Homo sapiens: one gene and its partner. The protein of the gene in region 2 purifies or fractionates together with the protein of the main gene of each other region. This does not show direct contact. Each region holds a gene or a part of one and is shown on either strand. Other genes may lie near its edges. The genes, in order: SCARB2 and GUCA1B.

What was found.
Region 1: the proteins of GUCA1B (region 2) and SCARB2 purify together in Homo sapiens (affinity purification with mass spectrometry; one large-scale study listed by BioGRID and IntAct). This does not show direct contact.

What each region holds. Positions count from the first base shown.
Region 1 is NC_000004.12:76,203,572-76,207,390, forward strand, and holds part of SCARB2 (lysosome membrane protein 2), read right to left. Parts: intron 1-3,819.
Region 2 is NC_000006.12:42,192,037-42,196,287, forward strand, and holds the start of GUCA1B (guanylyl cyclase-activating protein 2), read right to left. Parts: upstream 2,921-4,251; 5' UTR 2,785-2,920; coding exon 2,578-2,784; intron 1-2,577. UniProt on the Homo sapiens protein: Stimulates two retinal guanylyl cyclases (GCs) GUCY2D and GUCY2F when free calcium ions concentration is low, and inhibits GUCY2D and GUCY2F when free calcium ions concentration is elevated.

The DNA of each region.
Region 1 (3,819 bases), on a different chromosome or scaffold from region 2:
TAAAAGAATCTTCAACCAGCATAAGCTTCCATTTGGGTACACAGAAGGCTGGTCAGAGACAGAACTGAGAACAACCTCTCTGAGCTGTGTGTAGTGAACATGGAGTCGCTGGCCAGGCTGACACCTGACCTGCAGATGAAGGAACAGATGCAGGCTGGATTAGCTTGACTGCTGAACACTGACATGACTTAATACAGCCACAACCCAAGTCAGCCTAACAGCAATCTTTTGGGAAGGCAACACCATGAGAGTGGTGAAACCAGCTGTCCTGATGTAAGCCACTTCCAAGTGATAAAAATAAGCACTCAGGGAATCCATTAGGCTTTCACGGGAATCAGTAATACCTTTAAGGAAAGTTTCGGGATTCGAGAGCACTACTGGTTGTTCTTTAAGGTCAGTAAAGTGCTACTTCATAATTAAACACAACTTAAGCATCCATGTTGCCATCTGCACAGTCTAAATTCATCCAGAGATAATGCAGACCAACTTGGAGAACTTGCCCTAATTGTGTATGGATGGTATATTGGCCTAATTGTATACTGGACTCCAGATTAATAAAACTCATCAAATGGCAAAACACCAATTGATTTGCTTTGTTTTTTAAAATTGCTCCCTGAAACGAAGCAAACCCAACCCAGACTCATGCAGTAATTTAAGTAATTTCCACTGTTTACATAAAAGAAAGAAACTGCCATTAACATTCTACTCTTATTCCCTGACCTTATTTTAACTCAGTAAAAATGTATTGGCATTCATTTATTTATGTCACTGTTGCTTAACTCATTTTCATTTTGCAACTGTCATAATTTTAACTAATGAGCTCTGATAGTTCAGATTCAAATGTAGCTCATGGGTGAACTGTACTTTGTTTATAAATTACATACAGGACAATATGGTGGAATGACAATCCCAAAAAACCTCCTGCTACAAAATACCCACTAACTTATTTTTGAAAGTTTCTAGGTGATTACAAATGTACAGCCAAGTTTGAGAACTGATGACCTAAAGGGAAAAAAAGCAGCTACCGATAGAAACTTAAACATAGAACCAGGTGAAAATTGGGAGCGGGAGGGGAATATATATATACATATATGGGGAGTGGGGAGGCGGGTGAGAAAGAGGAGTTTCAGATGTGAATAAATAAGAAATAAGGCCACGGAAACAAGGCCCACATTCTGTGTGTAACTTGCACAGCCAGTCTCATTATTTTGCAACCTGTTTGGTTGTGATTATATCTCTCAAAATTGAAATAAGTAATATTTTCATTACCTACCTATTTCTATGTCTCCTCTTCCACTACTGTTGATTATCAGAAGTACAGTGTTAAAAGAAAATATCCTTAAAATGGGAATTGTGGGCGCTGGGAGGACTGGTGAGATGTTAGTCAAAGGACACAAAATTTCAGTTTGATATAAACAAATTCAAGAGATCTAATGTACATCATGGTGATCACAGTGGATAACAATATATTGGGCCAGGCACAGTGGCTCACGCCTGTAATCCCAGCACTTTAGGAGGCAAAGGTGGGAGGATTGCTTAAGCTCAGGAATTTGAGACCAGCCTGGGCAACACAGCAAGACCCCATCTCTACAAAAAAATATTTAAAAATTAGCCTGGCATGGTGCACACCTGTAGTTCCAGCAACTTTAGAGTTTAAGGCAGGAGGATGGCTTGAACCCAGGAGGTCAAGGCTGCAGTGAGCCATGGTAGTGGCACTGTACTCCAGCCTGGGTGACAGAGAGAAGCCCTATCTCAAAACAAAAACAAAAACAAAAACAAAAATAAAATAAAATAAAACCCCAAAATATTGTATATTTGAAAAATGCTGAGATTAGATTTTGTGTTCTTACCACAAAACAAAGATAAGTAATTGAGGTAAGGTGTATGTTAAACAGCTTGATTTAGCCATTTCACTATGTATATCTATATGTATATCTCTCTCAAAACATCATGTTGCATGCCCTAAATATGTACAATTTTGACTTGTCAATTAAAAAATGAATTTTAAAAAATGGGACTTGTGATGAGTGATTACATTAGTGTAACAATGGCACTCTGCCTCACACTGTCTCTGGAAAGTGTGTAAAATTCAGATGCTGAAGGGGCCAGATGGCTAGGGCAAATGAGTGACACAGGCCATGGGTTTGTACATTTGTTTGCATGTCAAACCCCAGCAGCAATATTCATTTCTACAGAGAAACATGCCCTCCCCCATTTCTGTTAAACACATGATCCTCTCAAGCTATCTTTCATTTTCCTTCTTTTGGTAAGGAGTGTCAGATATAGAGAAACATTTCTCTACTCTAAGAAACACAACAGCACATGCACAACAACGGATACCTTCACTGGGCCTTGGGAGCCAATAAGGGCGCAAAGGACGGTGGGTGCTGTGGTCTGAATGTTTATGTCCCCTCAAAACTCCTTTGTTGATATCCTTACCCCCAAGGTGGTGAGATTAGGAGGTGGGGCCTTTGGAGGTGATTAGGTCACGAGCGTAGAACCCTCTCGAATGGGATTAGTTCTCATAAAAGGTACCCCAGAGAGCTCATTTGCCATGTGAGGTTAGAGTGAGAAGACCATAATCTATGAGGCAGTGGACCCTCACCATACCCCAAATCTGCCGGGGCCTTGATCTTGGACTTCCTAGCCTCCAGAACTGTAAGAAATAAATTTCTGTTGTTTATAAGCCACCCAGTCTATGCTATTTTGTGACAGCAGCCTGAATGGACTAAGACAGTGGGAAACAGGGAAGGCAGGTCTCTTCTAAGGGTCAGCCTCTTTTCTGCCGAGACAGCTACCACACAGAACTTGGTATGACGAGTACCAAAGAACATCCACATGTTTCAAGAGAAGCTGGAAATCTGGACCAATACGTGAAGTTTCCAGATTTTAAAGGTATAAATCATTCATGAGACAAACATGTGACCACTGGCCTACAGAGTGAGGCAAAATGTGAGACTAAACAACAAAATGCAAACAAAATCATTTCCAAAGAAATTATTTTCTCTATTCATCCAAGTAACACTTACTGACCATCTATTTTGAATAAGACATTGCATTTGGCAGTAAGAAAAGACACAAAACTAAATACGACAGGACATCTACCTTCAAAGAGAGCTTTCATACTAGATTAAAATACCAAATTACGTCATATGGGTTGAAAATCCCCGCAGGGCTGAGGCCAGAAGGGAATTACTGAGTAATTCAATTATGGAGATATGAATGCTCTTGTCTACTTTGATCAGCACTCGGGGAAAGACAAGAGATTGTGGAACTGGAATTACTGATGGCCCAAACTCCTATTTTTAACACTGGACTCACAGGAAAGCCAAAAGGACACAGTAAATCAAAGACACACCAAGCAAAATCCTGGTTGTTTGAAAACATTAACAAGATAGCTTCCAAACTGGCCTTACAGGAATATAAAACAGGGATATTATGTATTTTTAAAAATATTCTAAAAAAATAATTAAATGAAAACTAGATCAACAGTTCTCAAAGTGTGATCTCAGGACCCCTGGGGAGCCCGAAGACCTTCTTAGGAGGCGCCCACAAGGTCAAAACTATTTTAATACTAAGGTATCATTTGCGTTTTTAATTCTATTATTTCTCTGAGTGTAGAGTGGAGTCTTCCAGAGGTTACGTGATATATAATGATGTCATATTGGAATATGTGCTTGTGTAGTCTTCTGTTTTAAACATTTCTCAAAAATACATATCAGTTTCAATTTCTAATATTGTAACTATCAATAGGTATGGAAACATAAGTTCTTTGGGGTCCTCAATAATTTTTAAGAATATGAGGGGCCCAGGAGTTTA
Region 2 (4,251 bases):
ACAAAAAAAAAAAAAGAAAAAAAAAAAGAAAAAGGAAGGCCAGGCATGGTGGCTCATGCCTGTAATCCCAACACTTTGGGAGACCGAGGCGGGTGGATCATGAAGTCAAGAGATGGAGACAATCATGGCCAACATGGTGAAACCCCATCTCTACTAAAAATACAAAAATTAGCTGGGCATGGTGGTGCTCGCCTGTAGTCCCAGCTACTGGGGAGGCTGAGGCAGGAGAATCGCTTGAACCTGGGAGGTGGAGGTTGCAGTGAGCCAAGATCATACCACTGCACTACAGCCAGGGTGACAGAGCGAGACTCCAACTCAAAAAAAAAAAAAAAAAAAAAAAAAAAGAGAGAAAAGAAAAGAAAAGAAAAGAAAAAGGAAAAAAGAAAGAAACCTGGCCGGGTGCAGTGGCTCATGCCTGTAATTCCAGCACTCTGGGAGGCCGGGGTGGGCAAATCACTTCAGGTCAGGAGTTCGACACCAGTCTGGTCAACATGGTGAAACCCCGTTTCTACTAAAAATACAAAAATTAGCCAGGCATGGGAGTGTGCACCTGTAATCCTAGCTACTCAGGAGGATGAGTCATGAGAATTGCTTGAACTCAGGAGGTGGAGATTGCAGTGAGCTGAGATTGTGCCACTGCACTCTAGCCTGGGCAACATGGCGAGACCTCATCTCTACCAACATAAATAAATAAATAATACAAAAATTAGCAGGCATGGTGGTGCACACCTGTAATCCCAGCTACTTGAGAGGTTGAGGTGGGAGGATCCCTTGAGCCTGGGAAATCAGAGGCCGCAAAGAGCTGAAATCATGCCACTGGGTGACAGAGCGAGACTCTGTCTCAAAAACAAAAAAGAAAATACACACTGAAATACTTAGGGATAAACGGGCATGATATCTATAGCTTTCTCTTAAAAAAAGTATATGTATAAATTATGTATCATGTATATGTATATATACTTATAGGATACATTATATATATGTATGTATACAGAGAGAGGCAGAATGATAAAGTAAATGATATAAAATGTGAATAACTGGGGAAATTTGGATAAATTGCATATGGGAGTTACTTGTATCATTCTTATAACTCTTCTGTAAATTTAGAATCATAGTAAAATTAAAAAGTTATTCAAAAAGGAAAAAACATTGATGAACATCATATGCCGATTTATAAGAAGAGATGAGGTATAAGGAGTACAACTATATGCCTAGGGGCTTAATCAGCCCTTTGGATCTTGAATCATGATCGTATTGATTTTTAGATGAATCTGGGGAAGATTGATGGACTTAAATGAGTCTTATTATTTATGACCTGATATATTTGTTTACTTTTCTTACATTTTAAAAAAACATCAATTATTTTAAAAAGTCATCTTCTCTCTTTAAAAAACCTGCCTTCTAGGCAGGAGCACTTAAGACCTTGGGCAAATCGATTCATTCCCTTTTGCCCAGCTTTCTCATCATTTAATTTGGAATAACAAAAGTCTGCCCCTCCCACCCAGGGTTGCTGCTGATTCAGAGGAGACCTAAGAGAGGCGGAGCGCTGAGAAGTCCGAAACTGGCTCTGTGCCCTGTGGGGTGGTCGATGGGGTTCATCTCTAAGGAGGTTCTGTTGAATTGAAGGTGCTGACCTCACCCTCCTGTCCCGGGACAGGCACTGTGGGGACGTGCACTGACTGGTACCAGCGACAGGATGAGACCTGAAGTGGCATTCCCAGTGATTCAGCTTAGAAAGCTAAGTTCTCCACGCACTGAGGAATGGAGAACTGACACTTTCTTCAGATTAAATTGGTATTTGAGGCAAATACCAGGGCATTTGAGGTATTTGAGGTATTTGAGGATTGCCAGGGCACTGAACTGGATAACCTTAAATAATCAAGGGGTTTTTAACTGAATTGAAATTTAAAATTCAATCCCCTGGTGCATTTACAAGATGTGTTATCTTCTTAGCTGCTAGTGACATTGTGGGCTTAGAGAAACTCTAGTCTGAATGATTTAATGAAACCTTCCAGGACTTGAAGAGCTGAAAGGGGCTTTTGCAGTCATTCGCCCAGTCTCCCAATACATGCAGGAGCCTCTTCCAGCATTCTTGACAGGGAGGATCTGACCAGTCTCAGAAGAACCCCAACAAGAGGGAGCTCATAGCCCATGCTAAGATACCTTGTCTCATTTAGAACATCTCTTTTGCTCCTAGTGTTTAGAGTGACAGGGGCTCTGGCAGATGCGAAAACCCGGTCATTGGGCTGCAGAGTCTTGGTCAAAAATACACAAAGAGAGGACCTGGACTGTCTGCCAGTCGCCCTTCAGCTCTCAAGAAGAGGACACAGGGAGCATCAGCCGACAGCTAAGAGATGGAGGGAGGGAAGGAGAGACAGAGAAGATGGAAAGGGACAAAAGGAAGAGAAGAGACAGAAGGGTTTGGTGAGTGAGACAGAAAAGGTAAAGAGAGACGGAGTGGAAAGAAGAGCAGAGAAAGAGCCGAGGAGTGGGGAACTGGGAGCTCTCCCTGAGGACACTTGTGGAGGAAGGCGCCAGGTGGACTGGCCACTGGTCCTTCCCTTCAGGGTGCCTTACCCCATTCTTGTCGAAGGCTCGGAACATGCCCTCTACATACTGGGAGGCCTCCTCATCGTCTGTGACCTTGAAGAAGCGCTTAAACTCATGCATAAAGAGTGTGCCGCTGGGGCACTCCATCACAAACTTCTTGTACCACTCCTGGAGCTCCGCCACATCTATCTCGCCAGCTGCCTCCGCCTCCTCCCAGCTAAACTCCTGCCCCATGCTAGCCCTGAGGAGCATCAGGGAGCAAGGGTCTGTATCTCCTCCCTGGCTTCTGCTGATGGATCTCTCCAACTAGGGCCCTCTTCCTCCCTTTCCAGGAGGCCTGATCAGCCTCTCCATCATCTCCTGGGTGACTGAACATGATCAGTCGGTGCAGGGGGCAGGTGGCAAGGGAGGTGGGTCCAGGCCAGCTAAGCTGCCCTAAGACTATTAGAAGATTCCCCAGGTGGCCGGGTGCGGTGGCTCATGCCTGTAATCCCAGCACTTTGGGAGGCCGAGGTGGGTGGATCACAAGGTCAGGAGTTCGAGACCAGCCTGGCCAACATGGTGAAATCCTGTCTCTACTAAAAATACAAAAAATTAGCTGGGCATGGTGGTGGGTACCTGTAATCCCAGCTATTCAGGAGGCTGAGGCAGGAGAATCACTTGAACCTGGGAGATAGAGGTTGCAGTGAGCTGCGATCACACCACTGCACTCCAGCCTGGGGGACAGAGTGAGACTCTGTCTCAAAAAAAAAAAAAAAAAAAAAAAAAGAGATTCCCCAGGAAGTTCTGACCTCCAGCCTAAACTCCTCCAGCCTCACTCCTTCCCTTAGCCTTGTCAACAAAGCAACCAAGCTGGCCCTGGTAGACTCTGAAGAGGTAGAAGGGGAAGAAACTGAGAGGTAAGCAGAGAGATGCAGAGTGAAGAAAGAGTCGGGGTGCTAGGCTGGGATCCTCCCATCTCACTCACTCCCTATCTCTTTAGCTGGGCCTCACATTGCTTCAGGGAGGCCCATCTTGGAGACAGGAGACTCAAATCCAGAGAGGAAGTGAGATCAAGTCCTAGGCCATAAAACAGAATCTGCTGGTGATCTGGGACTCGCCCCTCAGACGGTCTAGTGAAAAGAGGCAGAATCTATGATGGGAAGGGCTCTAGGTGAGCAACTCTCTTCCCAGGCTAACTCGGTCCCTGAAGCTCCTTTCCAGATTACACCTTTCATCTTGGGAGCTTTTCACTTTCTGATTTAAACTACAAATGCCTCCCTCCAACCCTTCACACAAGACCTAGGGGTAGTGCCTTTTTCACATTTCCTCCAAAATACTAACATGTGAGAAGGATCTGGGAGCATGGCCTAAAATATCTTTGAAGGCTCTTACTTTTACATTATAGGTCATGTAAAATTTGCTTTTGAACAATTACATATTCATGCTTATTTTAATGTAACATAAAAATGACACCTCCAAGAAATCAAAAGACCAGGGACACACATTTTTCTTTTTCTTTGCTTTTTTTTTTTAAATTTCTATTTTTTGAGACAGGGTCTCGCTCTGTCGCCCAGGCTGGAGTGCAGTGGTGTGATCTCGGCTCACTGCAACTTCCGCCTCCGGGTTCAAGTGATTCTCATGCCTCAGCCTCCCGAGCAGCTGGGATTACAGGTGCACACCACAACACCCAGCTATTTTTTCTTCTTTTTTTTTTTTTTA